4 linked regions of the Homo sapiens genome follow. The protein of the gene in region 1 interacts with the protein of each later gene in a pairwise test. Each region holds a gene or a part of one and is shown in the gene's direction. Other genes may lie near its edges.

What was found.
Region 2: the proteins of NGB (region 1) and L3MBTL3 interact in binary tests that used the Homo sapiens proteins (3 or more experiments, as listed by UniProt).
Region 3: the proteins of NGB (region 1) and TEPSIN interact in binary tests that used the Homo sapiens proteins (3 or more experiments, as listed by UniProt).
Region 4: the proteins of NGB (region 1) and ZNF655 interact in binary tests that used the Homo sapiens proteins (3 or more experiments, as listed by UniProt).

Annotation. Positions count from the first base shown.
Region 1 is NC_000014.9:77,268,207-77,275,594, reverse strand, and holds the start of NGB (neuroglobin), read left to right. Parts: upstream 1-4,388; 5' UTR 4,389-4,657; coding exon 4,658-4,746; intron 4,747-6,268; coding exon 6,269-6,380; intron 6,381-7,009; coding exon 7,010-7,129; intron 7,130-7,388. UniProt on the Homo sapiens protein: Monomeric globin with a bis-histidyl six-coordinate heme-iron atom through which it can bind dioxygen, carbon monoxide and nitric oxide.
Region 2 is NC_000006.12:130,133,579-130,140,601, forward strand, and holds part of L3MBTL3 (lethal(3)malignant brain tumor-like protein 3), read left to right. Parts: coding exon 1-43; intron 44-264; coding exon 265-327; intron 328-6,031; coding exon 6,032-6,175; 3' UTR 6,176-7,023. UniProt on the Homo sapiens protein: Is a negative regulator of Notch target genes expression, required for RBPJ-mediated transcriptional repression. It recruits KDM1A to Notch-responsive elements and promotes KDM1A-mediated H3K4me demethylation.
Region 3 is NC_000017.11:81,236,049-81,243,160, reverse strand, and holds the start of TEPSIN (AP-4 complex accessory subunit tepsin), read left to right. Parts: upstream 1-4,105; 5' UTR 4,106-4,127; coding exon 4,128-4,175; coding exon of another isoform or gene 4,176-4,647; exon of another isoform or gene 4,648-5,001; coding exon of another isoform or gene 5,002-5,159; intron 5,160-5,500; exon of another isoform or gene 5,501-5,674; coding exon of another isoform or gene 5,675-5,701; coding exon 5,702-5,774; intron 5,775-6,083; coding exon of another isoform or gene 6,084-6,089; coding exon 6,090-6,181; intron 6,182-6,359; coding exon 6,360-6,453; intron 6,454-7,112. Other genes in the region: NDUFAF8 (NADH dehydrogenase [ubiquinone] 1 alpha subcomplex assembly factor 8), read right to left, coding at 2,008-2,174, 3,479-3,593, 3,714-3,797. UniProt on the Homo sapiens protein: Associates with the adapter-like complex 4 (AP-4) and may therefore play a role in vesicular trafficking of proteins at the trans-Golgi network.
Region 4 is NC_000007.14:99,561,626-99,568,648, forward strand, and holds part of ZNF655 (zinc finger protein 655), read left to right. Parts: intron 1-262; coding exon of another isoform or gene 263-348; exon of another isoform or gene 349-670; coding exon of another isoform or gene 671-869; intron 870-2,237; coding exon of another isoform or gene 2,238-2,434; exon of another isoform or gene 2,435-3,080; intron 3,081-7,023. UniProt on the Homo sapiens protein: Probable transcription factor.

The DNA of each region.
Region 1 (7,388 bases):
GCGGAATTGCTTTCTTCTGAGCCGGGTGGGCTCTCCTGCAGGGAGAATGCAGGGGTCTGTGCTTGGCTCTTAGCAAAGCAGGTGGCCCACAGTGACCTCCAGGAGGTGGCTGATTTTCCTTTGTGCCTTCTTATTTCTCAGTAGGAACTTGGAAGGGAAGAGCTCTGAAGGAGCCAGAGGGGCAGCCACCTTGCATGAGGGTGAGGAAGGAGAAGCCCAGCCAGCCTCTACCCATCCCTCCCTCCCAATTAGGCTGCACTGGGGCCGAACGCTTCCCTGGGCTCCCACTGCCTTCTAAGGAGCCAAGGAGAATTCCCTGCCCACTTTCTGTTCCTCCATGCCCAAACTGGCAGATGCTTCTCTGGGAGCAAGGCCACATGGGCTGATGCAGCTTTGAGTGCTCAGGTTCTGTTTTCTGGAAGTTGCTGGAGAAGGGCTGTCAGGGTGCTTCTATGAATATGGGCTTCAGCTGTAGCACTTGGCAGAAACGTGATGTGTCCCACAAACTGCTGGTGGAGGAAGAAGATGTTCGTCAGCCAATTCAACCTCCAGCCAGCTTCTTGAGCCTATTTGGTTTAAAAAAAAAAAGTCTTCTAATCAGAAGCCACTGATTTTATAATAAATAACACTTGTTTTGAATGCCTTGTTGTCCTTGTACTTAATTGAATCCGACTTGCCCTCTGCTCCCAGAAAGGCCTCCCTGAGAAGAATGTTTTGAGTGCAGGAACCACCCCGTGTGTCATGTCTGAGGCTGATCTAATTCCAGCAGAAGACCTGGGCTGGGCAGGTGAGCCTGATTACTCCAGGAGGCATTTGGATCTCCCCATGTGTACAGTTACTTGAGTAATGTTGGTCGTCATTTTGGTATATTTAAACTGATTCCAAAATAAGTAGGAAGCTGGACCTCTGATTTGTCCTCTTTTAACCTGTTCACATGGCATAGAAAGGAGTGCAAGAAGAAGTTGTCCCCTTCCCAGACAGCCGAGTATCCCAGTGCTGTAGCAACTTGCCATTCTGCCTAACAGAGGTCCCCATCTTGACAGGTGTCTCCTGTTATCAGGAGTGATGCTTAGGAGCTGAAGGCAGCAGGAGCTGACCTGAGTGTTGGACAGAGGATGGGGGAGGGGAGTAGCACTGTGCTGTGGAACTGGGGGGCTTCTGGGCTGCCTAGCCACCCTCTGGTAGGGGCTGGTGGGGAGAGAGGGGCATGTGGATCTTCAGGAGGTGGAACATGCCTACGACAGGCAGTTTAGGAAGGGGCCAAGTCACTCTTCCTTGAGTGGCACAGCTTAGTTTACAAAGTCTCAACACATCTCTGACATTTAATCCTCATAAAGGCCCAGTGAAGTCAATGATGTTTTTGTTCCCATTCTACCCATGAGAGATTAAATGACTTGTCTTAAGGTCCCACAACAAGTAAATAGTAGAGCCAGGACTCAGTGCCAAGTTTGGGTTTTTCTGCCTCTCTAGTCTTGTCCTGGGACTAGAGGCACCTTCCCAGAACAGCTGCAGCCCTAGATACCCTGGGGAGAAGGCCTGAGCACTCAGCCCGAGGTCCCTGACGCAGCACCTTCCCGTGGGCCTTCTGCTTAATGCATCAGCAGCCGCTCATCTAGGGCCCAGGTTTTCCTGGCTCCCCCAGGTGCACCCAGATCAGTGTGTGCTGGTAGATGTTTAACAACAGGTGTTCTGGGAGGAAAAACTGGTGTGTATAGCATTTGCCAATTTCCATGGTGTAAATATTCCCAACATGTTCTTTTTTAAGCTACCAACTTGATGTCACTGAATGAGAAGTTGGAAAGAGATGCATACAGTTGGTTCTTGAAAGCCATATGAAAGCTGGCTCCAGCACACCGCTGAACCAGACCCAGTGACCATGGCTTGGTCTGAATTATGGCTGGGGCTCTTGGCCACAGCCCATTAAAGCAAGGGAGGCATGGAGGCCTACAGGATGGGCCAGAGAGACCTGAGGTCAAATCCTGGCCCCACCGCTTATTACCTATGTGAGCTTGGGCTAGTTACTTAACCTCTTTGCCTCCATTTCCTCAGCTGTAAAACGAGGGTATGATAAATAGCACCTACTTCGTAGTTATTGTGAGGATGAAAAGAGGAAATGAAGTAAGGTGCCCGGAACACTGTCTAGACATAAATGCCAGCTCTGTATTATTAATGATACATGAACCTCAATGACCAGCACTGGCTCTGGGACAGTACTTGAATTCTCCTCTAGGTTCTTACCTCCTGGGCGGATGACCCACAGGGAGGAGACTCCTGTGACTTTTACTGAGCCCCTCAAATGTGGGCTTGGACCCTTGGTCTACTGATGGGAATACATCACTCTCATCGCTTAGGCCCATCCAGATTCTCAGGCCTTTCTTGAAGGGAGCAGGGATAGAGTGCACTTACCTTGGCTTATCTTAGCACATATCTCCTGGCTCTAGGAAGACAAAGAGTGAAGCCATGGTTTGAGTACTGACTCTACTTACTAGCTAGGGCCGTTAACTCCCACTACCTCATCAGACTCCAGACCCTGGCCAGAGGAGAGAGGAAGCAAGATGGGTCCTAAGTATAGATTGCTGGCAAGAAGCGTGAGCTGGGTAGAGTGGGGTACCTGAGACCAGCCAGGTGGCCTGCACAGAGCACTGAGCATCTGGGCACTGAATAGTGAAGGTCACCAATGACACGTGTCCTTGCCCTGTGACCTGCTGCACCTGGCTGCAGGTCCACGGGACCCCAAGCTGGAAGTTTAGTCACGTCTTGTTCCTTCAGCCCCAATCACTTTGTGTTCTTGCTTGGAGACCTCTTGGACCCTAGGACACCAGCTTTTCCAGGCTGCCTTATAGCCTTGCTCTCCTGCTCCAGCCCAGAGATTTGTGAGGAAATGGGAAATAGAATAGGGGTTACCACAAACTCCTGAGTCCTTGGAAGAGGGAGAACAGCTAGATGATTTCCTGGGGCATGGCTAGGAGTAGGAAAGAAAAGTTCTGCTGAGGCACTCAGTTCTGATTCAGGGCCAGAAGGAGAAATTTTAAAGACCAGGACTCGCCACTCCATGTCTAGCACAGGGCTGGGCATGGAGCCCCAGCTGTTCATAACCAGGGGCTCAAGAACACCCACCTTCTACCCATGGAACTAAAGGAGGTGGACTAAAAGGTCCCAGAGACCTCACCACCCAACCCCTTTGCTGCACAACTGAGGAAACAGGGCCAGAGAGGCGTGGACAGACAGAGGAGATAGGCTCGGAGACCCCTGAGGGAATAATGAGAGAGAAATAAAGGTGAAAACGGGCTTGCTCTCCCAAACCTGGGCCACCAGCACTGGGCTGGGGCTTGAGGAACTTTCTGCTTGAAAGAGAAAAGTTTAGTTGTAATTGGCAGGTGGCCAATTGCACACCCTGAGTGGGGAGCATGGATTCTATTATCTGAACTTCTATTGAAAAAATTAAACAGTACTTCCGTTAAAAAAAAAAAAAAAAGGCCGGGCGCAGTGGTTCACGCCTGTAATCCCCAGCACTTTGGGAGGCCGAGGTGGGCGGATCATGAGGTCAGGAGATCGAGACCATCCTGTCTAACACGGTGAAACCCCGTCTCTACTCAAAATACAAAAAATCAGCCTGGCGTGGTGGCGGGCGCCTGTAGTCCCAGCTACTCGGGAGGCTGAGGCAGGAGAATGGCGTGAACCCGGGAGGCGGAGCTTGCAGTGAGCCGAGATCACGCTATTGCACTCCAGCCTGGGCGACAGAGTGAGACTCCGTCTCAAACAAACAAACAAAAAGATGAAAAATCATGGAAGTGGGGAAGGCCCAGGGAGGGAAGAGGTGAAAAATTAAAATTAAAATTAAAATTAAATCATGGAACGGTAGAATGTTAGAGCTGAACTCCCTCAAGATTCCACCCTGGCCAAGCAGAGCTGGGATTAGAACTGGATCTCACGGCTTTCTAAAGATGGAGTCTCAAAAAAACCCAGGCCTGGCTGGGAATGGCTGTGGTCTTGGCCCTGTCCCTACGGCTGAAAGCCCTGGTGGCCCCCAACGTGTGCTGGTGCCCTAGTCAGACCGAGAACTAGGCCCCTAGGCCGCCTCCCCAGGCCTGACCTGCAGGCCAGGTGGGTGGCAAACTCAAATGCCTCTGGCAATGCGTGAGTTGAGGGGCCTGTGGAGAGGGGGCGCATGCAGCGCCTACCTGAGGCGACCAAATTCAACACAGTGCCCTCGGGGCTCGGGAGGAGAAACTGAGGCCCAGAGAGCCTCCGCGATGTCAGTTACGTTCTGCAGGCCGGGCCTTTCCCAGGCCACCATAGCGGCTGGCGGAGGGAGCGCGCGCCTTGCTGGCCTGGAGGGGGCGGGGGCCGTGGCGGCTTTAAAGCGCCCAGCCCAGGCGTCGCGGGGTGGGGCGGCTCTGGCGGCTGCGGGGCGCAGGGCGCAGCGGCCAAGCGGGGTCCCCGGAAGCACAGCTGGGGTGTCTCCACCTACGACTGGCCGCGCGCCTTTTCTCTCCCGCGCCAGGGAAGGAGCGGCTGCGGCCCCCGCCGGGCGGAGGCACGGGGGGCGTACGAGGGGCGGAGGGGACCGCGTCGCGGAGGAGATGGCGCGGCACGTGCGGTGACGGCACCCGAGCCCTGAGGGTCCCAGCCCCGCGCTCCGCGTCCCCGGGACAGCATGGAGCGCCCGGAGCCCGAGCTGATCCGGCAGAGCTGGCGGGCAGTGAGCCGCAGCCCGCTGGAGCACGGCACCGTCCTGTTTGCCAGGTGAGGGCTACACGAGCGCCCGGGGATGCGGGTGGAGGCTGCCTCGGCGGGAAAGGGGTCACGCGGCAGGACCGGCCCCGAAGGAGGGAAAACTGGCCGCTGCCGGGGCGCTGGGGCGCCTGCCAGATGTGCGCCAGAGGAGCGGGGCGCGGCGACGGGTGGCACAGCCCCTCTGCCTCTCTCTCGACCGTGGGCGCCTGTTGCCAACCAGCGCCGCACACCACTCTCCCAGCGGGGCTCACCGGGCCGGGCGGGATCCCCTCCCGCGGATCTCCCCACATCTGGGCGGGTGGACCTCCGTCCCTGCGCGGCGCCTCCACCCCGCCTTGTGCCTCCTGCGTCTTCCTTAGGTAGCGACTGCAGGGGTGCACCCCGCTGCCGGTATCAGGGTACTGGGGTGCCCCGAGAGCCGGGGAAGGGAGATGTGTGGGGCGAGCTCCTGCGCCCGCGTGTGAGCGGTCTGGCTCCAGGTGTGTGGATCCCTGACAACCAACAAGACAAACCTTTCCGAGGAAAGAGCCAGAGAGCAGCCGGGGAAGGGGTGACAGATGCGGGAGCCTCACCGCAGGGGAGAGGGGTGGGGGGTGTGCAGGCCGGGTGGGAAGGGAAGGCCAGTCTCCAACCTCAGCTCGCAGTTTTGGTAACCCTTCCGCTATCACCAACCGGGCACTGCTTCCCTCACCGTGGTGTTACCTATCCTTGGCACCCTTGGACAGTCCAGAACTTCTACCCAGGCTTCCGCAAAACCACCCCCAAGACAAAAGGGGAAAACATTCAGTTACCCGGTGAGACCTCCCAAATGCCGAGGAGGGCCTCTGCTTCTGCCTCCGGACTCCCCCCAGCTCACTTTTTTCTCAGGCACCCGCTGTGGCTGCACTACATCCAAGCTGTGTGACCTTAGGCGAGTTCTAGCCTCCCCGGGCTTCTGTTTTCTCCTCTATAAAACTGGGATAACAGTTGTACCCACTGCTTAGGACAGTGAGGAATACAGTTAAAAGTTAACCACACGGAAAGTACTCAGCGCAGGGGGGGGGGGGGGGGGGGGGGGGGGGGGAGAGGGAGAGGGAGAGAGAGAGAGAGAGAGAGAGAGAGAGAGAGAGAGAGAGAGAGAGAGAGAGAGAAGAGAGAGAGAGAGAGAGAGAGAGAGAGAGAGAGAGAGAGAGAGAGAGAGAGAGAGAGAAAGGGCTTTCCTCTCCACACAACGTAACTCCAGGTTTCCTGTTTGGGGACCTCTTCCTGTCCCAAATCACACCCCTCAGCTATTCACCGAGGGACCCCTGCTTACCAGAGGCCCTGGGACACATTTGCCCTTTCTAGGATGCTGCCCAGAGCCAGTAGAAGGCATGAGGAGGAGGGCACTACCGAAGCTGGCGGGGGAGCAGTGCCAGGTGGGAGAGTCAGCTGTGGTTTGCAGCTGAGACCTGGCTTGGCACCCCCGCCCGCTGACTGCAGGACAGCCAGGCTTGCTGGGGCTTGCAGGAGCTCACACCCCAGGGCTAACACCTGGGCCTCACTCCCACAGGCTGTTTGCCCTGGAGCCTGACCTGCTGCCCCTCTTCCAGTACAACTGCCGCCAGTTCTCCAGCCCAGAGGACTGTCTCTCCTCGCCTGAGTTCCTGGACCACATCAGGAAGGTGAGAGGGAGGCAGAGCTGCTGTGACCTCTGGGATCCAGCAGAGCACCTCCCTGGTGGAGAATGGAGAAAATGACTTTCTGCCCCAGGTCTAGTCTTACTCCCTTCCAGTTCCCCCAAGCAGGGTACAGCTCCTTTCCCTCTGGGCTGGATTGGTCTGGGACATCAGAATCAGCCTCTTCCCCTACCCTGCGTTCAGAGAGCTGGTCCCAGCCTGTGTCATTGCCTTTGTCCTCTGGCTCCCATAGGTTGTGTTAGCACAGATCCTGGTAATTGGGAACTATCTGCCTATGAAAATCAGGCTGAGATTTTCTTAGAATCTCATGATTCTCAAAGGGCCTCAGTTTCTCCTTGTCCCAGCAGACAACACTCTCCAGTAGGTGTGTTTAGAGATGTGAATTTCTCAGAGGAGAGAGGCTTCCTTCATGGGTATAACATTAGTAGTTTGGCCACCACGTATCGGGTGCCCCCTACATGTAGTAGACACAGGCTGCCTTTGACCCCTGATCTTGGAGAACTGAGGGTCCTACTGGCCTCTCTTGCTTTGGGACCCTCATGCCTTGGGCTGTGATTGTGAGCAGATGGGGCTGCTCTGGCCTCTCTGTTTCACTGCTGCCTTGGCCTTGGCAGGTGATGCTCGTGATTGATGCTGCAGTGACCAATGTGGAAGACCTGTCCTCACTGGAGGAGTACCTTGCCAGCCTGGGCAGGAAGCACCGGGCAGTGGGTGTGAAGCTCAGCTCCTTCTCGGTGGGTAAAGGAGCTCTGACTCTCTCCAGAGCTCCTGGCCTGGGGCCACTTCTCTCTCCCAGACCTCCCCTTGCCACCTGTTCTCTCTCCCATTCCCATATCCTTAGATAACCAGGGCTGCGGGCCTGCATCTGTTACCTGCTGTGTGGCCCTGACATGGGCTTGACCTCTCTGAGCTTCCAAGTTCTCTTTTCTGATATGGCTTCTTTTAAAACCATAAAAATTAACAAGCTTTTGGGATCAGCTGGTCTGCTCAATT
Region 2 (7,023 bases), on another chromosome or scaffold:
AGGAATCCCTGCCAGTAAAGTTTCCAAATGGAGCACAGACGAGGTATATTTTATTTTCTTTGCTGCCCGACACCAGATACAGGATTACTGGCTTAAGAGGTGTGGAACATTGAGCGTAGGTAGCGTTTAGTCTTTTTTTTTCTGAAAGAGAAGAAATTATTGTGAGAGAAATAACTAATGCATATGGGTTAAATGTTTTGAACCTGTAGCATTTAGATTCTGACTGTGTTTTTTAACTGGGAATTTTGATATTGCTTTTGACAGGTGTCAGAATTTATACAGAGCTTACCTGGGTGTGAAGAACATGGAAAGGTATTTAAAGATGAAGTAAGTATTCCACTAAATTGCAATATGTTACTTAATGGGATCAAAGCACTGAAATGCAGTGGAAGGTGAAATGTGTGGAATTGGCAGAGTCAAAAAGAGATGGGGTGTGTTGAAATTGACAAATTGATGTATACTAACAGGCAGTATGAATCAGTTGTATAAAAATGTCTTTGTATAAGATGAGATGCATAAGAATGTTTGTGAGTACCATTTTATGATACCCCACAGCAGTAACACTAGGCTCCTTATAAAAAGAAAACCCACAGAACTTAATAGCATGCATTTATATAGTTTATAGCACAGAGGAAGCCAAAGAAAGAAAGAAGCAACATTTTCTCTTTTTAATAAAGTGAAATTAGTTTCCATTATTTTATTTTCCAGTGTCATTCTAACAACACCATGATTGACTCCATTTGAGGTTTATAATAAGTAATATTAGCATTATGTCTAAAAAAATCCCTTAAGTCATATACATTCCTCAATAATGTTTATAATAAGATATTTATCACAGTCCACTTTTGGAAGATTATTTTATTAGTTGTTTTCAACTCCCTCTCCAAAACTTCAATATAAGGGGTGATTAAGAATGATATCACTTACAGTGAGCACTAGAATAAAAAGGAATCTGGTTTCTAACTTTTAATTCTGTAAGCGTACAGCAGGAGACCCTTTTCAGTAGAGACCTTTAAAAATAAGCCACTTGCCTGTCATCTCCTCCAAGCAAAGCAGTCAATTACCCCTCTGATTTTGGCTGTGTCTACTCCTGCCAGAAGGCAGAAAGTAGACTGAGTAATCTCAGAAGGTGCTCTCCAACATCTGCTGTCTACAGTTACACGCATACACAACTTGTTTGCCCCTATGTGTAAAGCTCAACTGTTAAGAACAGCACACTTTCCATTTCATTGCAGGAGTATAGACACAGCTAACAATCCAGCCACCAGTTGTCAGTGTTGTTATACTGTTAGGTATAATTTATGCGTTAGATGAAAGCTTGTTAAAATGCACAAGGATCTGATTTCCAACATCCTTTTTCTGATTTATGTTCTTATTGTGCAAAGGTTTTATTTTCTCTCTGTTTGATCTTTAATTGGCAGTTATTCAGATTTTCTTTCCCTAAGTCCTGAGTGTCTTCACTGATACTCTCAATTCATTTTCTGTTTTTTCCTTTTTTTTTTTTTTTTTTTTAAATCGAGATGGAGTCTTGCTCTTCTCTCCTGGGCTAGAGTGCTCACTGCAACCTCCGCCTCCTGGCAGAGGCGATTCTCCTGCCTCAGCCACCTGAGTAGCTGGGATTACAGGTGCCCGCCACCACGCTCGGCTAATTTTTTTTGTATTTTTAGTAGAGACTTGGTTTCACCGTGTTGGCCAGGCTGGTCTCGAACTCCTGACCTCAGGTGATCTGCCCACCTCGGCCTCCCAAAGTGCTGAGATTACAGACGTGAGCCACCGTGCCCAGCCTGAATTCATTCTGTATCGCTGAGCAGACTTAGAGCCACATAGGGAGCTGTTGGTCTGTCTTGGAAAATGTCATGTTGTCATTACCTTTGAAAATAATAAAGCATTTTTGAAAATAAATTTATAATGCATCTCTTTTATAACTTCTGTTTTTTTATTCTGTTGTTATCTAGATAATCCCTATAGGTTTGCTCTATTATTCAGTTTGAGTAAGATTCAAGTTTAAATTCAAAATGAGATGCTATTTTTTGAGTAATTTTTTTTATTCATGGCAGATTGTCTTTGGAGATGTTCCTCAGTTACCAAATATGCTCAAAGCTAGATCCTTTTCTGGAGGAGTGAGATAGTTAATATTCTCTGTCGATATGAATTATTCATTCATTTACTCCTTCATTCATTCATCTTGTGCACATTTGTTAAATTCCGACCATGAGTATGTTACTTTGTGTCATGCTCTTGTGAGAAGGATGATTCGAAAATAATGAAACCTAGTCCTTGTTCTCAAGTGTCTCACAAGGTCAGTGGGTTTGGGTTTTGAGTCCTACAAGTAAACCATAGTACAAATCTAACCGAAGTCTTATAAATCATCTTTAAAAGGCAAAGGACAAGTATTCAGATAGGCTGTTGTTGGAAATTATCCTTGACTTCTCTCTTACACATGCCACATCTCATCTGTTGAAAATCCTATTGGGTGTATCTTTGAAACATGTAAAACCCTTATCACCCTACTGCCACCACCACCCTGGTCTGCGCCACCATCCTCTCCCACTTGGATTAGTGCAGTAACCTCCAAACTCATTTTCCTGCTTCTGTTTTTGCTCCTCTACAGTCTATTCCCAGCACAGCCAAGGTTACCCTGCTGAAACATAAGTCAAACCATGTCACTCCTCTGTTCAGGTCCTTCCAATAGCTTCATCTCTCAATCAGAGTAAAAGCAGAAGTCCTTACAAGGGCCTGCAGTCTGACACCTCATTACCTCTCTTGCCCCCTGGCTTTTTGTTTACACTGCCCCTCACGAGTCTACGTGCTGGCCTCCTTGCTCTTCCTCTGATTGTCCAGGCTTGCTCCCGCTCCTCCTTCTGCACAGAACACTCTTCCTCCAGATGTTCATGTGGCTCACTTCTTCTGCTCAGATGCCAGCTTGCCAATTAGTCCTGCCCTGACTTTCTTACTTGAAATTGCCTCTTGTCACCACACATGCATCCCTGCTCCTGCTGCCCATTCATCTTCCTAGTCAGCTCTGTTTAATCATAGCACAAATCACCTTTTTTTTTTGAGACAGAGCCTCACTCTGTCGCCCAGGCTGGAGTGTAGTGGCACAATATTAGCTCACTGCAACCTCTGCCTCCCAGGTTCAAGCTATTCTCATGCTTCAGCCTCCCAAGTAGCTGGGACTGCAGGTGCGTGCCACCACACCCGGCTAATTTTTGTATTTTTAGTAGAGATGTGGTTTCACCATATTGGCCACACTGGTCTTGAACTCCTGACCTCAAGTGATCCACTGACTTCAGCCTCCCAAAGTGCTGCAATTACACTCATGAGCCGCTGCTCCTGGCCAACATGAGTCACTTTCTAACTTACTAATTAATTGGCTTACTTAGTATGTTTATTGGCTTATGGTCTGTCTACCACTTCTAGAATGTAAATTCCACAAAAAGTTTTTTGCTTGCTTGGTTTTATTTGTTTTATTCCCTGCTATATGTCTAAGCCCAAGAAGAGTGTTTGGAATATAATAGACATTCAGTATATTTTTGTTGAGTGAATACATTCATGCCTTTACACTCTGAGAAAGACTCACTCAGACAGAGCATGTCACTGTGGTTTCGAGTTAAGGCATTGGAAAAGAACAAATAGTGAATAGTGGAAAGGGCAGTGAAATGGAAGGCCAGAGCTCCTGAATTCCAAATCCCTCTCCTTTGTTTTAGGCCATTAGCAAGACACCTAATGTCTGGAATAATGGCATTGTATATGCATTGCAGAAGCTAACCGAAAAAAAAGTAAGCCTTGTAATACATTGCAGTGGTCACTGTTGTTCTTAGGATGTACTTTCCTGAATTAAGTTGACTTCCTTCCAATCAAGACTTGTTTGTATGGCCACATGTCAGAGCAACCTGTATGTAATAAAGAGTTTGGAAGTAGCCTCAAGATTTTTTTTCTTTCTAGTGTATGTAACCTTATAAATAACAACCTACCAAAATGTATCCTTACTGTCCCACTTTTAACTTCAAATCCCAGCCACTAAGTTCTCTGGATGTTTTTTTTTTTCATCAGTTACCTGTTGTGTTATACTCTTACATAGTTTCAGAAGGAGACTTGCTGTCTGCGCCAGGCCTTCAGTAGGGCCAAGGTTGTAATAAACCAGTCAGCCTTTGTAGTGGGCTCCTTGGGAATGTCAGTTGACATTTTCATTAATGACTTAGAAGACTTCTATAAGGCTGTCCATTGTACTAAGGTCTGCCTTGGTTGAGCGAAGTGTTAATAGATCTGCCTTTCTTCCTGACCTTGCTTTATCAGAGGACTGTCATAGCACAAGCAAATGAGAACAGACCAATGTTTCCAGAAAACAGGAGAACATTTCTCATACCTGCCGCTTAACGGTGCTACACTTGGAGATTAACACTGGAACGTCTTTCCTTCTAGTTTACAACAGCAGGATGTCTTTTTACTGAAATTAGCACACTTTTTCCACATAATTGTTACTTGAAGAAGTTGTGTAAGATGACTCCAGTTCTTACTGATGAAGCATTTAGGCAGTCTATATTTACAGGTCTTTCATTTTTAAAGGAGAGAGGAAAATCTTAAGAAGTAGCAATTTAATTATATCAGCCTTGTTTAGAGAACTGTTTGCAGAATTTAGAGTTGTCTTAGTTTGCTAGGGCCACCATAACAATGCCAACCACAAACGGGTGGCTTAAATGGCAGAAATGCATCGTCTCACAGTTCTAGAAGCTGAGAATCTGAAGAAGGCTAGAAGTCAGGGGGTTGGCAGGGTTGCTTCCTCCCGAGGGCTGTGAGGAAAGAATCTGTCCTGGGCCTCTCTCCTTGACTTGTAGATGTGACTTGTAGATGGTGGTCTCTCTTTGGGTCTTTACGTTGCCTTCCCTCTATATGTGTCTCTTTCTCCAGATCTCTCCTTTTTATGAGGATACCAGTCATAATTGGATTAGGCACCCACCCTACTCCAGTGTGACCTCATCTTAACCAGTTACCTCTGCACTGACCCTATTTCCAAATAAAAGTCACATTCTGAGGTACTGGGAGTCAGGACATCAATATACGAATTTTTGTGACAGGGACACCATTCAACCCATAACGGAGTGCGTTGCTGTCAAGGTTTCTGATGTTCTAAGGCAGAGAACAAAAGTGTGTTTTACTTTTTGTACAAGGTGGGAAAACTGAAAGGGAAACTTTTTTTTTTTAAGGTGATAGAAGAGCTGAAAGTCATAATGAAAGACTGTTTCTTTGCTCTGCCCAGTAAGCCAGACATCATTTTCATAGTATTTTATCTTTTAACCTAAAAGATGTGTTGTACCTTTGAACTTCTAGAGAATAGTAGCCTATTTTTCAGAAGCATAGACTTTTGTCTTAGAAGATGTCCAGAGAGAGGAAGGGTCTTTCTCATAGTTACCCTACCTGCGTATTAGAAGAACCACCTTAAAGTCAGTGACTCGTAACACCAGCCTCACATTCACTGTTTGATTGCCCCGTTAGTAAATGCTTTTCTTCTGTGTGTAAAGACTTAACTGTGGCCACACTAGAGATAAGTGTTATCTTTCTGATTTTCTTTTCTTCATGGTGGAAGGCTAATTCTGGAAAAAAAAAAAATGTTGCATGTAGCTGATATGTTTGCCTGAGTTATTTTATGTCCACAAACATTCATGTACCTGTTATCTCTTCTAATTTTAAAACCTGCCATGATAAAAACTAGACTTTGGGCATCCTGGATTTTTCCATATTCTTCTTAACTCTACAACTAATTCAGAGTAATCACAGGAAGATATGGGCACCTTCTGTTTTCCTTTGGCTGGTTTTTCAGGTGAATTAGTTTACTTTGTTCCCAGTCCACTTTGGGATGTGTCATTGTGGATAAGAAAGGTCCATATATCAAGAAATGTCATTGCACACGTGAACTTCTCTGTGCTTTTTTAGCATTGCTATGTAGAAGACAGCTGGTAATTTAACCTTGAATATTTTCTACAACACTGCATCTTGTTAATCCACATTCTGTTGTTTTTTTCCCCCATTTTAGCAAATTGATGGAGAAGCATTTCTACTTATGACTCAAACAGACATTGTTAAAATTATGAGCATTAAACTGGGCCCTGCTCTCAAAATTTTCAATTCCATCCTGATGTTCAAAGCTGCAGAGAAGAATTCTCACAATGAACTTTGAAGATGGTGAATTCTGAATACCATCAGCATTCTGCTTTAAAGCTCATGTTTTATTCAAAGCACAAGGACGGTTATAACTCCTAAGTGAGAAGTCTCCAAAACTCAAAAGAGCAACACTATCGGATTATTTATATTACTCAAGAGACAATATATATGAATTCTTATGAAAGTGCTTGAGCTTTTAACCAGGTACTGTCTAACAACAGTCATCTTTTGGTTCTGTTCACTGAGCTAAATTTATCTTTGTAAATCTTTTTGAGTCTGGGGGGTGGGGGGAAGGGGGGCTTCATTAATTATTTATGGTAATGGGGGGCAGAGTAAGAACTTTTGGCATTTTGTAAACATTGTTGAATTCTCTTTCATGTACACTGTTTCTTTTTCAATACTTTCAGAAACCTTTTTATATAATCAAATTTCAATTTAAACCAAATTAGTCGAAACCTGGCTAAGTTTAGCCAGTAGGACTGTTATCTGTATTGTTAATTTTGTGCCATATTTTGAATTGCAACATTATGCTAAGTATAACTTTGCAAGTCATGATATTGCCTAACTGCTTGTCATAATTGTCAGGGCTGAATAGTTGTAAGAATGACTTTTCTTTGAATCAGTATTTTTCCTTTTGCACGCATTATGAAATGTTAAACAAATTACTTTTCACCAGCATCTTTACTATAATTACCAAAAACATGTATATAAAAGAATGAAATTGAAAAATAAAATATATAAACATAAATAAATTAGGTAGTGTATTTTGAGTGGCATCAGTCTCACTCATCTTGGTGCCCCGGTGTTTACAAGAGCCAGATGGTGTCAGAGGAGTACGCAGTTGTATGCAGTTATGGTTGGGGG
Region 3 (7,112 bases), on another chromosome or scaffold:
AGCGCTGTCCCGTCGCCGGTGTGTACTTCTGCGCGGGAACAGACTTGCGCAGCACGCTGGCCCAGGGACGGATTGAGCGGAGCTGAGCCCTCAAAGAACTTTGGGTATCTCCTGAGAGCCAAGGCATTTGCTGTGGTTTGATGTGTCCCCTCCAAAATTCAGGAGTTGCCTAAGTGACAGTATCAAGAGGTGACTAGGCCGAGGGCTCCTTCCTCGCTCGTACGATTAAGAGCCTTATAAAAGAGGCTGCACCTCCGCCTTCTGCAGTGTGAGGACACGGCACAAAGGCCCTCCCCAGACACCAGTACCAATGCCTGGATCTCGGGCTTCGCAGCCTGCAGAGCTGTGAAAAATCAGGCCGTTCTTTGTAAATCACCCAGTCTCAGGTGCTTTGTTAGGGCAGCAGGGACGGCCCAAGGGCACCTGAAGCAGTTAGAGCTCCACACTGTCCCTGCGGTGCGAAAACAGCAGAACCCCCACAACCTCCCCTCCCCCTCCCCCCCGCCTCCCCCCCCCCCACCCGCCCAGCTTCCTGAGCTGTCAATCGATGTGGTGCTGAAATCCAGTCACTCAGGGAGGAAGGGCAGAGCAAAGGTGGGAGGTTTGCAAGGAAATTTGGGGTGGCAGAAAAGAGGGTGTACCCCGGAGGCCTGAGAGCTGAGTTTGGAGGTGTGGGCCACGCTGGGCCACAGGAAGTGGCAGGTCTGTCACCACCTCACACACAGGGTGAAGGACAGCGAGGGGGAGTGCTGGCAAGACAGGTCTGTGGGTGGGATGGGAGGCTGGATTTGGAGGGAGAAGATGCAGGAAGCTCTGCCAATGAGCTGCCAGAGAACGGAGAGGGCGTGACAGGGCTAAGAAAAGGACGTCTGCACACTGAGGCTCGCTCATGGATGAGTGCTGGGCACAAGAAGGAGGAAGGCAGGGGTGGGGGGCAGCCGGCCCTGCACGCTGGGGAGGCGGGTCGGGTGGTTTGTGCCAGCGCAGGGCATCTGAGTCTGGCATGCACAGGGATGGACTGCGGTGGCTTGACCCCAGGAGTCTGGTCTGGATTTCCGTGGTTCCCAAGATGTGACACTATCCTGGCCCTTGGGACAAAATCCAGCACTCTGGCCTGGCTCCTGCAGACCCACCACCCAGATCAGACCCTTAGGGGAAACCAGGTTAATTCTGGGGCAGCATCTGGAGGAGGAAACATGGAGGAACAGACCTCAGCCCACGGGGTCAGCCGCTAGCACGGGCCTGGGGGCAGGCGCAGGCTGCAGCCCCAGGAAAGTGCAGCCTCTGCACCCCGGAGCAGGGGGGCTCTCAAAGCAGTCCCCGCCACGCCCTGCAGGTGGCGCTCAGGCCCCATGGACTCCGGGGTCTCACCATCAACAAGTGCCCGGGCAGAGTCAGGATGTGGCCCTTCTCACCTTAGTTTTAGGTCAAGTGATGTGATAGGGAGGGGGAACGAGAGGGCAGGCGCCATCGGTGAAGTACCTGGGCTGCCGAGGGGGCGACCAACCCCACACAGGAGGGGCACTGGCTGCTGGTGCTCTACGCAGGCCCCTCTCGGAGACTCAGGCCCTTTTGTGAAGAGCCTCCGCCCTGCCCCGTGTCCAGGAAAGCCACCTGCGAGGACCCTGCCCCATGGAGTGTCCCCTCGTGGTGCTGACGTCCTTGTCTTTGGTGTGTGCTGTATACCCACAGCAAGGTCTGCAGGCTTCACCAGATTCACATTAAATACCTTAGTGAGAGTGTTTTAAAACGGGGACCTTGAGGCAGGGTGTCCCCAAGTCCCAGCCCTGCCAGCTTTGGGGGAAAGGCTCTGGGCCCCATTCCATCTCAGAGAGGCCAAGACCCACATGTTGCAGTCTGCACACAGTAAGCCCCAGGCTGCAGGATTTGACCGAGTCTTTATCGTGGCTTCCGTTACATCTTATTCTAACTCAGGTTTACGGACACAATGCTGGAAAACCAATTCCTGCTCTACCCACGCCTCAACTTGTTAAGAAAAAACAGGATCTAACACCGAGGAATGTCACATCTTCGCCATTCCCACTTCCTTTCTGCCCTAGGCATTCGATATGTGCCACCAGGGGCCATCAGGACTAGGGCTCTGCACCCATGGCAGCAGACAGGTGTGAAGCTCAGAGTCCCTCCTAACAGCCTCCCTCCAGCGTCTTCTTGGCCTGCAAGATAAAGTGTTTTGTCTGAATGGCTTGCTTCCAAGTTAGATACGCCTCAAAAGCAAGCTACCACACCACACGTTGTGTTCTACCAAATACCTTACAGAGAACTTGGGTGCTGGCATATGGTGGGGGCTCGACTGGTTGGAGCCTGGGGCCCCATGGGCAGGTTCTCTGGGTCACTTGTCCACGGGACAAGGGCCTCATGACACTATCACAGAACTCACTGCTGCCCCCTCCTCTGAGCCCCCACGAGATGCCACATTTGGTCTCAAGCTCTCATAGAGGGAAAGCAGGAGCCCCCCCCCTTTTTTTTTTTTTGAGATGCAGTCTCACTTTGTTGCCTAGGCTGGAGTACAGCAGCGTGATCTCGGCTCACTGCAACCTCCACCTCCCAGGTTCAAGTGATCTTCCCACCTCAGCCTCCCAAGTAACTGGGACTACACCACCATGCCTGGCTAATTTTTTTTTTCTTTTTTTTTGTAGAGACGGGGTCTCCATATGTTGCCCAGGCTGGTCTCAAACTTCTAGGCCTAAGCAATCCACCCACCTCAGCCTCCCAAAGCGGTAGGATTACAGGCACGCGCCACCACACCCAGCAAAAAGTGCAACTTCTGATGAGTTGTCCACCCCTGGATCCAAGGCTGCTGGGGCCGGGTAGGGATGAAGGCCGTGGAACTCTTGTTCAAATACCCTTTCTCTGGTCCAAATCTCCGGATTAACAGCTCCCAGTAAACAGAGTCAGCACTGGCATCAAGGCCTACCCAGATACACTGAGGTGGTACCCGGTGCGGCTGACACTTAGGGAACCAGCCTCAGAATGACTTAAAGCCCCACGGGCAAGAAGCCCTATCGTGCCAGTTGTGAGGGTGGCTGGGGGTTCCCCGCAGGACACGTGCTGAAGGAATCCACCACTGCAGGTGCACAGGGGCTGCAAGTGCCAGGGAGGTGAAGACCCGGAAGGTGCTGGGCACTTTCCGGGAGTCCTGTGTTGGGTCAATCCTGGCATGACACCCCCCGGCGGCAGTGCTAACACGAAAGCTTACGCGTTTTACAAGGCGCTTTTTTGCACACATCTCCCATCCTTTCTGAGGTTGGTGCCAGTCCCGCTTTACAAACATGCAGGGACAAGCCCAGGACGGCCGAGGTTTCGCGGGCTCGTCGATGGCTCGGTGATTTTGTCAGCCGGCGTCTAAAGCACGCGGCAGGCGCTCAAACCTTGAACCAACGGGAAAGCAAAGGAAAGCCGGGGCCCGCTGGCTCTTGGAGGGGAAGGGCTGGGAAGGGGGGAAGGGGCCCGCGCCCACCTACCGCAGCGGCGAAGCAGCTCCGCAGGGCCTCGAACTCCCGCGCGCAGAAGTCCTTACTCAGGCGGCCGCCCGGGGCCGTGGAGGCCTGCACGCACCTGCCGTACGCCGCGGCCTGCGGAAAGGACGGGCGTGGGTCGTGGGGTCCCCTGACCCCGTCACCGTCCTCCCTCCCAGCCACCTCCCCGCGCGGCTCCTCCTGCCCCGCAGCACTGGCCCGCCCGCGGCTCCTCACCTCGGCCCCGCAGGCGGCCAGCCGCTCGGGGAAGGCGCGGAGGCGGCTTCGCACGCGGCCCCACACCGCTCCGTTAGCCGACATGAGCGGCTATTCCCAGCCCCCTGGAGGCCGCCATCTTAGGTCCGTCCTCTTCCGGTGTCAAACAGCTTGATAGGTCGGCGCTTCCGCCCATAACCTTTCCTGAACTTCTTAATTGGCCAGGCTTTGCCTGGCCTCGAGCCCCCGCAATTGGCTCTTGTCCTAGTCTGTCTGTGCTCTGGGACTTCGGATTGGCCTAGGCTCCAATTGTTTACGAAGCCAACCTCAGGGCCCGCCCTACCGTGAGGGATTGGCCGGCGGACCCAGACCCGCGCAGTGATTGGAGGGCCCGGGCCTGGCGGAAGCGGGGCAGACCGGGAGGGGACCTGGATCATGGCTGCCGCGCCGCCGCTACGGGACCGCCTGAGCTTTCTACACCGGGTGAGTGAGGGCGGTCCGCCCGGGCCCCGGTCCCACGGCTCCTCTCGAGCGCCGCATTCCCCGGACTCGCCCCGGGCCGGAGCCATTGACCTTGCGTCTCCGCGCCGGGTAGCTGCTCCTGGCCCCTTCGCCCGCGCCGACGCCCCTGAGCTGCCCGCCCGCCGCGCCGTCCCGGGGCCTTCCAAGCCGGGCCTTCCAAGCCGGACCCGCCGAGCGCAAGGGCGATGGGCACAGCCAGACCCTGGGGGAACGAACAGGCCTCGGCCAGCATTCAGTGGCCTCCGACGGGAGGGAAGGAGCGGCGGACCCGGTGGACGTGGAGCCGCTGTGTCCGTGCTGCTGGCGCCCAGGTGGGCTGGCAGCCCGCCGTCCTCCCTGACGGTGGCGTTTCAGAGGACTCCGGTCCTGGAGAGGCACCCCTGGGTTGCAGAGAACACAGACGTCTCGAAGGGACAGAGAAGGACGCACCATTGTAAGCCCCTCTTAGTAAACCCTCTGAGAAGTAGAGGCCGGGGCGAGTTCCCAGGTGTCGTCCTGAGCAAACTGCCCTCTTTTGTCAGCCCTGAGCTTTCCTGGGCTGGACCTCAGAGGGGGCTGGGTGGTCCCAGGGCGCGACCTTGGGCTGCCAGAAGCCACGCTAGGGTTGGTCAAGGCTCTCAGTGCAAGGTTTCGACATAGTCGTTCTGTGCTGCGTTCTGCAGTTGTCAGCTGTCACCTGCAAACCTCAGCAGCTCCCCTTAGGGCGTGGTGGGCAAACAGTGTCAGTGATGCGTGTCCACAGCCTCGGGAAACACTTCAGGTCCACGTTTTCGTATGTTGTCACTAGATCTCGGCCCTTCCGACCGAAAGGCTTCGGCACCTCACGCGGTGGGTCCCATGCTTGTCCTGTTAAATACTCTTGAACTCTATTCTGTCCTGATACTGAATAATGCAAGAATGGGTGGTTCCAGTTTTCATCCCTATAAACCGTACATCTTTGTGCCAGTAAGTAAGCATGAAACAAATAAGTACGTCTGCGCTAAGCGAACGTAAAACACACGACATCAGTCGGTTCTCGGGGAGCGATGGAGCTAGTCACGCTGAGCGGCTGTCACTCTGCCATTCCGGCCTCTGGGGAGGTGGAACGATTCATAGTCCCCTGTGTGGAAAAGGGGCTTGCCTGGGCCTTGTTTGGCTTTGCTAGTCAGTAGGTAGGTACAGGAGAGGTACCTTCAAATAGCCTTACATGCTGGTAAGTGCAGGGAGGCTGGGGGCTGTGTCCCTTCTTAACCCAAGTGGCGCAGCTCCTCCGTGGAGAACCACCATTGATTTGCCTCTTCTCCGAGGCTGTTCATCCCTGACTGTTGAGAGAGGACCCTGCTGCAGCCTCCCTGTGGCCAGTAGCACAGTTCTCATCCCTTCCCAGTCCTCTCTCCGGCCATGTCAACAGTGAGAGGTGGGTCGTTTCCATCCCCTTTGGGGGGCTGCGGATTCACCCCTGTGGGAAATGGCACCTCATCATGGTAGGGGCTCTTGTTCCCTTTCAGCTCCCGATTCTCCTGAAGGGGACGTCCGATGATGATGTCCCGTGTCCGGGCTACCTGTTTGAAGAGATTGCTAGTATCCTTCCTTGATGTCCCCGTGTAGTGGAAAGAGCGGATGGCAGGGTCCCAGAGTGGTGCAAAGGGTTCCTGGGGATTCTGCTGTCCCTAGGGGGATGCACGGCTCCTTTATTATTGTAACCAGGCATGGGTGGGGTCTGAAGGCTGCAATACTGATGACACAGGGGACCCTAGAAGCCCAGGTGCTCCTGATGGCAGAGCCTCCAGTAGGCGCCTCCAGGGAGCGTGAACTGAGAGGCCCCATGGCCTGGTCTCCCTGCGGCCTGGCGCAGCCCTCATCATCTCGCCCTTCCCTAACCCGAGCGTGCCGCAGAAATCTCCCACGAGTCTCCGGGCAGCAGCCAGTGCCTGCTGGAGTACCTCCTGAGCCGCCTGCACAGCAGCTCCGGCCACGGGAAGCTCAAGGTGAGCCCCTGGGTGGTCAAGGGTCAGGCCTGAGGCCCGGCCCACGGTGGTGAGGATGGAGGAGCAGACGAGCGGCCCAGGGTGGCAGGCAGCTCTGTGCCCTTGGGGTGCCCCCGGGCCCTGCCCTGGGTGTCCCGTGTCCGGCCTGCCCAGCACTGCTGACCGCCCCACTCCCCAGGTGCTGAAGATCCTGCTCTATCTGTGCAGCCACGGCTCCTCCTTCTTCCTGCTCATCCTCAAACGCAACTCTGCCTTCATCCAGGAAGCTGCAGGTACAGGGGCCGCGCACGCGCTCAGGAAGAGCCAGGGCTTTGGAGAATGGGGGAGGGTGGCGGATCCTCCAGGTTTGAGAAGGAAGACTTCAGCCAGAGCCCTCACCTGGGCCGGGTCCCGATCAAAGCCCCGCCTTGCTGATCCTGGCCCATCTCTGGCCTCTCCACCTGCTGCCCACCCTCACCCCAGCTGGCCGGCTCGGCCTCCCCTGACGCGCCCTGCCCCCTCCCTCCGCTGGGTCCTCCGTGCCTCCTATGCGTCCCTGGGCCTTTGGCTGCGTCTGTCCCTGCGCTTGCTGCCCCGGGTGCCAGTTTGTTTCTCTGTGTGCCCCACGGGTCTTCCCCCTCCATCCCAGTGCCCACACATAGCAGACTCAGTGCCTGTTCACACATCCTTCCCAGGCTGTGGGTTCCCCTTCTGGGGCTGCTCCTCGGAGCCCAAGACAGAGTGAGGCCATGGGAGGGCGGAGCTGGGAGGCAGGAGAGGCGGGGCCCCGGCCAGTCGGTCTGTCCAGGCAGAAGATGGGTCTGGGGGAGCTGTCCCCGCAGGCTTGGGGGCAGTCCCATGTGCCTCTGCCTAATGAGGACTTGTGGGGGCTTGGCCTGAGATCTTCCATGGGGTGGAGGGAGGCCTGGCTCCAGGTGGTCACTGGGCGCAC
Region 4 (7,023 bases), on another chromosome or scaffold:
AAGAGGACTGTCATGTGATGAAGATAAAGTGAAATACAAGCTTTCCTAAGAAAATCCTGTATCACAGGTCAAAACACGCATAAGGCATGCAAGTACTGAGACGAAGCAGAGTAGACACACCCAATACCTGAAAAATGTTCATTGGTTTTACTAGAGTATTGAGGAGGGTCCTGCTGACACCCCTTGGGCTGGAGAGGCCTCCTCTGAAAGGGAGCCCTGGGAAAGGGCTGCTCTCACTCTTCACTCCTTTCTCCTCCCTCAGCTCCACCTGTTCCTCAGGTGCCTGCTCTTCCCCGTGAGGGAAGCCCAGGAGACCAGGCAGCTGCGCTCTTGACAGCCAGGTACCAGGTGAGCTGAGGAACCCTCTGCTTTTCCTCAGGGACTATTGCTACTGATGGAGTGTGGCCTCTCTCTCATCCCATCTGTAGACCTTGCCTGGAATTTTTTTCAATAGCAGACTCCAGTTTGGGAATTGATCCTCTTCGGAGACCTGGACTTCACATAAACCAACTTCCCATCTCCCCAGTGCCATGAGCAAACTCTGTTTTCTCTTTGTCCATGGTTGTGTGATGGGTGCTTATTAGATGTTTAAGGGTTATGGGCTTTATTCCGTAGGTTCTAATCTGTTCTCCCTCCTCCTCAACGTAAGTACACAGTGGATACCCTCTCTATGATCTTCATTCTCTGGCCATGGTGCTACAGTGTTCTCATTCCTCAGAGCAGCCAGGATGTGTTATTTCAGGAGTTTGTGACATTCGAGGATGTGGCTGTGCACCTTACTCGAGAGGAATGGGGATACCTGGACCCTGTTCAGAGGGACCTCTACAGAGAAGTGATGTTAGAGAATTATGGGAACGTGGTCTCACTGGGTAAGGACTTCCTTATTATTCGGTTTATCTATTTGAATTTCTTTACTTTCTTGTTTCTTCCTAAGTATAAGGTCTCTGAGAAGGTCTGTAGAGTGTGGCTTAGATTCCAGGACTTAGAACCTCTGAATCCTTATCTTTCACATCGTCTTCTCCGGGAGGGGTAATTAACGTTTGTTTGGGGGTGCCAAGAAGAGACATTCTCCTCCTTATCCCCAGTTCATGTTTATGGCCATTGTGGGGCATCTTTTCCCTTTTAGCAAAGGGAAACTTTCTTGTGCTTTGCTTGATTTCTCACCGTTCTTTTCTTTTCCATTTTTGTAGGAGAGACCCCAGGGTGGCCTCCCAACCTCCAACCAGACACTTTCCTCTTTGTTATCTCAGTGTCCCTGTATTAGAGAATTGAAGAATTTCCCATTTTTCTAGGAAAAAGAAATGCCGTTTATTTAAAAAGACAGGCTAAATTCCTTCTTGTTGAGTAGTCCCTCACCCCTTAAGATCCCCAGATGTATCTCCAAGCAGGCAGAACTTGAGATGTCATTTGAAGGCATGACTCACTGTGAGTACATTTCAGTGAGTCACCCAGAATGGTAATCCCACGTAACCACACCCAGGGCAGCAGAAATCTCAGATGTTTACCCCATGCTGAGGTGGGGTCAATGCTTAACTCATGTCTCTCCCTTGTCATTTTGAAAGGTACAGTGGGAAGCTGGGATTAGCCAAGCTGTAGTGCTGCTGGGAAGCATCAGTGGGGTTTGTCGGCAGCTCCCTTGGTGTGAGCATTGTTCCTTTTTCTTTAGTTTATTTTTTATATTATATTATATTTTTTATTTTATTTTATTTTTAGATGGAGTTTCACTCTTGTTGCCCAGGCTGGAGTGCAGTGGTGCAATCTCAACTCACTACAACCTCTGCCTTCCAGGTTCAAGCGATTCTCCTGCCTCAGCCTCCCAAGTAGCTGGGATTACAGGCATGGGCCACCACGCCCGCCTAATTTTGTATTTTTAGTAGAGACGGGGTTTCACCATGCTGGTCAGGCTGATCTCGAACTCTTGACCTCAAGTGATCCACCTTCCTTGGCCTCCCAAAGTGCTGGAATTACAGGCATGAGCCACCGCACCCAGCCTCCTTTTTCTTTAGTTTCTTGCTTGCTTCTGCACTCTTCTTTTTGTGTGTGTAAATACTGAATCATGCATTTTCTTTTCTTTTTTTTTTTTCCGTTGGCTTTGTCTATGCTGGTGGCATCCAGGGCATTGCTTTGTCTCCCTGATTATGCTCAGGATTCAAGGTCTTCTTATTTGTGGGGAGGCAGGCTGCCCACTGGGACGGTTTTTAGTGTGTTTTCCATTCCTGGCTCTTTAATCTTTGTAGGCATACTTCTCCGCCTTCCCACCACCCGGATTCATAGTGTGAATTCCTGCCCGGCCCTGAGTCATACCCAGGCAAGTGCTTTCTCTGGAGAAACACTTGCCGTCCTTACAGCAGGAATCTCCAAGAGATGGCCCAAGTATCGGCTTCCCATCGATATTGCTCGTCCCTGCTCGGAAACTCCTTTTCCACGATTGTGAGATATTAAAATTGACTGATGGAATAGAAGCTCCCCAGGATGCCACCACTGTGTAAAATCGCAGCTCCTCAAATTACCTCTGTTTAATTTCAAATGTTAGGGTCCAAGGAAGCCCTCTGTTGCAACCAGATATGTTTTGAACCCAGTTCATTCAGAAACCATGGTTGGTGGTCATCATCTACTTGTATTGTGAAAAACCAGAAATTCCAAATTCAGCTCTTCAGTTATGGTCTTTTCATATTATTTTAGAATGTGAAACTTATGCTGTGTGCCCCTCCTTTTATGTGGCGAACACAACCTGCCCCGTATGGTGCCTAACTCTCCTGTGAACCCTGGGCTTCCCTCATGTTTAACATTCTGGTTTCCTCCTTCCTTGAAGTCCCTGTGGCCCTCTTCAAGGTCCTACCTTCCTACCCTTTATTCTTTGTGGTTCTGTACAGATTGATGCAATTATATTGCCTTTCCTGATTAAGTGTTCCTTACTCTGTCCTTGATGGAGGGGAGAAGGGAGGGCAAAGAAGTTAAATTTATTTCAGGGCATCAAATTGAATATCTACTTAATAACTTTGTAAACTGTAAAGTGACATACATATAATTGTAAAGTACTGTTAATTTTATCTAATAATTACAGAGTTTCCAACAGTTAACCTGTCTACTTTTTGGAGTAAAGAAACTTTGTAGCAGTTTAATGCAGTCTAATAGCATAGTATGCTATAGACTGAACTTTATCCCATTTCCTCTCTTATCTCTGCACTGCACACTCGACATGCAGTCGACATGCATACACACTTTTACACATACAAGAGACACGCACAGTGCAAGAAAGCCTTCTACTCATCTTGCTTTTGTGATCAAGTTAGCAGCATCTCCTTAGCAGTTATTTTTACAATCCTTGGGAAATCATTTTCATATTTTTGGGTTCAGCAGACTTCATCTGAAAATTAACCCATTTATGCCTAGTGTTCCATTATTGGAACACTAAGCTTGCGGGAATTATTTATGTCCCGCTGCTCAAGGTCATCGCCAAGGTCTGATTTTTAACAAAAATTGCAACCTCCAGCATAACTGGGTTAAGTTTATACATTTATTAATTTAACTTTTTAGGGTTGTAAGACTTTTTTTTTTTTTGAGACGGAGTCTTGCTCTGTTGCCCAGGCTGGAGTGCAGTGGCACCATCTCTGCTCACCGCAAGCTCCACCTCCCGGCTTCATGCCATTCTCCTGCCTCAGCCTCCCAAGTAGCTGGGACTACAGATGCTCGCCACCATGCCTGGCTAATCTTTTCGTATTTTTAGTAGAGATGGGGTTTTGCCATCTTAGCCAGGATGGTCTCGATCTCCTGACCTCGTGATCCGCCTGTCTCGGCCTCCCAAAGTGCTGGGATTACAGGTTGTGAGCCACTGCGCCTGGCCTCCAGATTGTATTTGTCACAGACATTAGAACGTTGGTCCTTTGCTTAAGTGCTTCCACTATGCAGCAGTAAATATACAGAGTACAAATAGCTGAGTAAAGAAGTCGGTAATAAGTAATTTTCGTTACCACATAATTGAAAAAAGAACATACTCCATTGATGATGAATGAACAATTTGCCTCTGGGTCACTATCCATAGGGAAGTTACCTGTTACTTAGTGTGGTAGATTAAGACCCATAAAGGGGACCGAGTTGCTTTTCACATGGGTAAGTGTGGCAGGTGCCCTATTAGATGATGGCCTCAGAAGCATGCTTGTTAAAATTCTAATTGATATTAACTGGGTCAGTAGATTGGGAATGTTTGGCACATACTCTCTGCTTTTTTAACTTGATGTCATGAAGGACTACAGTTATTTTGCACAGAATGTTTTCCATTGTCACAGCTATTTAGTATTTATTGAGCAGCCAATATGTTATTGGGTACTATATATATGTATGTATACACACACACACACATATGTATATACACACACACAGACATAGGACATTTATATGTGTGTGTGTGTGTGTGTGTATATATATATATAAAGGATATGTGTATATATCTCATTTAATCCTTACCATAACCCTGTGAGCAGATGACACTGCTCCTATTTTATATCTGAGGAAACTGAGGCTCAGAGAAGTTAAGTGATCTTTGCAGGATCAGTGAGAGGCTTGGGACCCAGATCTGCCTCTGAAGCCCCTGCACTTTTTCACTACTTTGTGCCCTTAGGACAATAAGTTCAACTACACATGGAGTTTTTAATATTTTTAGTGAGTTGTGTGTACTCTGATGACAAGAAAAATTCAAAATGCCATGACAAATTGGACAGACAGGCCAGTATATAGTTTGGGACCAGAAAGGACATGCATTCAAAAAGTAAAACTCTCTAGGGACACATTCCAGTCCAACAGGTATCTACAAAAGAATGATATTGCTAAGGAGAGATATTATTTGTGTATTAAGGACCAGGAAGAAAAGCGTGAAGCTTTCAGATGGCTAAAAGCATAGCCGTAGTAAAAGCAGCAAACCATATGATAAGGCAAATTTTAAATATTATTTTTGAGGCAGGGTCCCCTCTTGTTGCCCAGGCTAGAATACAGTGGCATGATAACAGCTCACTGCAGCCTGGACTTCCCTCCAGGCTCAGGTGATCCTCCTACCTCAGCCTTCTGGGTAGCTGGGACTATAGGCCTGTACCATCATGCTAATTTTTTTCTATTTTTAGTAAAGAAGGTGTTTCGCTATGTTACCCAGGCTGTTGAACTCCTGGGCTCAAGTGATCTGCATGCCTCAGCTCCCCAGAGTCCTGGGATTACACATGTGAGCCAACACCATGCTCAGCTTTAACTGTTATTTTTGAAGACCAGATTAAAATAAATTTTATTAGAAAACTCTCAAGATTTAAATAAAATAATTTTTTTTTTGGAGACAGTCTTGCTCTGTCGCTCAGGCTGGAGTGTGGTGGCACAATGTCAGCTCACTGCAACCTCCGCCTCTCAGGCCCAAGCCATTCTTGTGCCTCAGCCTCCAGAGTAGCTGGGACTACAGGCATGCACCACCATACCCAGCTAATTTTTGTATTTTTAGTAGAGATGGGGTTTTGCCATGTTGGCCAGGCTGGTCTTGAACTCTTGGCCTCATGTGTTCCACATCCAGCCTTAAAATCAAAAGGTTTTAATAACTTAATTTTAAACGGAAAAAATGTAAAGCAAGTGCATATTTTGAAAGCATAGAGTCGGCCAGGTGCTGTGGCTCACACATGTAATCCCAGCACTTTGGGAGGCCAAGGCAGGCGGATCACCTGAGGTTGGGAGTTCGAGACCAGCCTGACCAACATGGAGAAACCCCGTCTCTACTAAAAATACAAAATTAGCCGGGCATGGTGGCGCATGCCTGTAATCCCAGCTACTCTGGAGGCTGAGGCAGGAGAATCACTTGAACCCAGGAGGTGGAGTTGAGGTGAGCCGAGATCGTGCCATTGCACTCCAGCCTGGGTGACAGAGTGCAACTCCGTCTCAAAAAAAAAAAAAAAGCATTCACGTCAATGTCAAGAGAACCTGCTACTAATGCTTTCTTTGATAGGCAGTATGATAGGTTGGAAAGAATATAAACTGGGATCAAGCTTGGGTTCCACTTACCAGCTGTAGTATGTTGAGCAAATTATTTAATCTGACACTCATTTTCTTGGTTTATAAAACATGAAAAATAATGTCTACCTTCTGGGTACAGGATTGAATTAGATTATGCATATAAGTACCTGGCTTGTGTCGGGTGCGGTGGCTCACGCCTGTAATCCAGCACTTTGGGAGGGTGAGGTGGGCGGATCACAAGGTCAGGAGTTCGAGACCAGCCTGACCAACATGGTGAAACCCCGTCTCTACTAAAAATACAAAAATTAGCTGGGCATGGTGGTACATGCCTGTGATTGCAGCTACCCAGGAGGCTGAGGCTGGAGAATCGCTTGAACCCGGGAGGTGGAGGTTGCAGTGAGCCAAGATCATGCCATTGCACTCCAGCCTGGGCGACAGAGCGAGACTCCATACCCCCCGGCCAAAAAAAAAAAAAAAAAATTAAGTACCTGCCTTGTGCTAGTTACTTTAATATTTTGGAAAGAATAGCAAGCGATATGAGCCATAGACCAGATTTTTTAATACAAATAAAAATTTCAGGAGTGTGTTCAAATTATTTATTTATAGTGGAGTTTCCTCAAATTTATTATTGTTTGGACTATTGTCTAGGGATTTGGATTTTTTTTTTTTTTTTTGAAATGGAGTCTCCCAGGCTGGAGTGTAGTGGCGTGATCTCGGCTCACTGCAACCTCTGCCTCCCGGGTTCAAGCGATTCTCCTTCCTCAGTCTCTCGAGTGGCTGGGACTACAGGCACCCGCCATCACGCCCGGCTAATTTTTGGTATTTTTAGTAGAGACAGGGTTTCACCGTGTTAGCCAGGATGGTCTCGATCTCCTGACCTTGTGATCTGCCTGCCTTGGCCTCCCAAAGTGCTAGGATTACAGGCGCGAGCCACCGTGCCTGGCTGGGGTTTGGATTTTTATTGTAAAGGATTTCCATTTCCTTGATAATAAATCATCTTTTAGATCCCTTTTAATTTTTAATTTTAATTTTTTGTAGAGATGG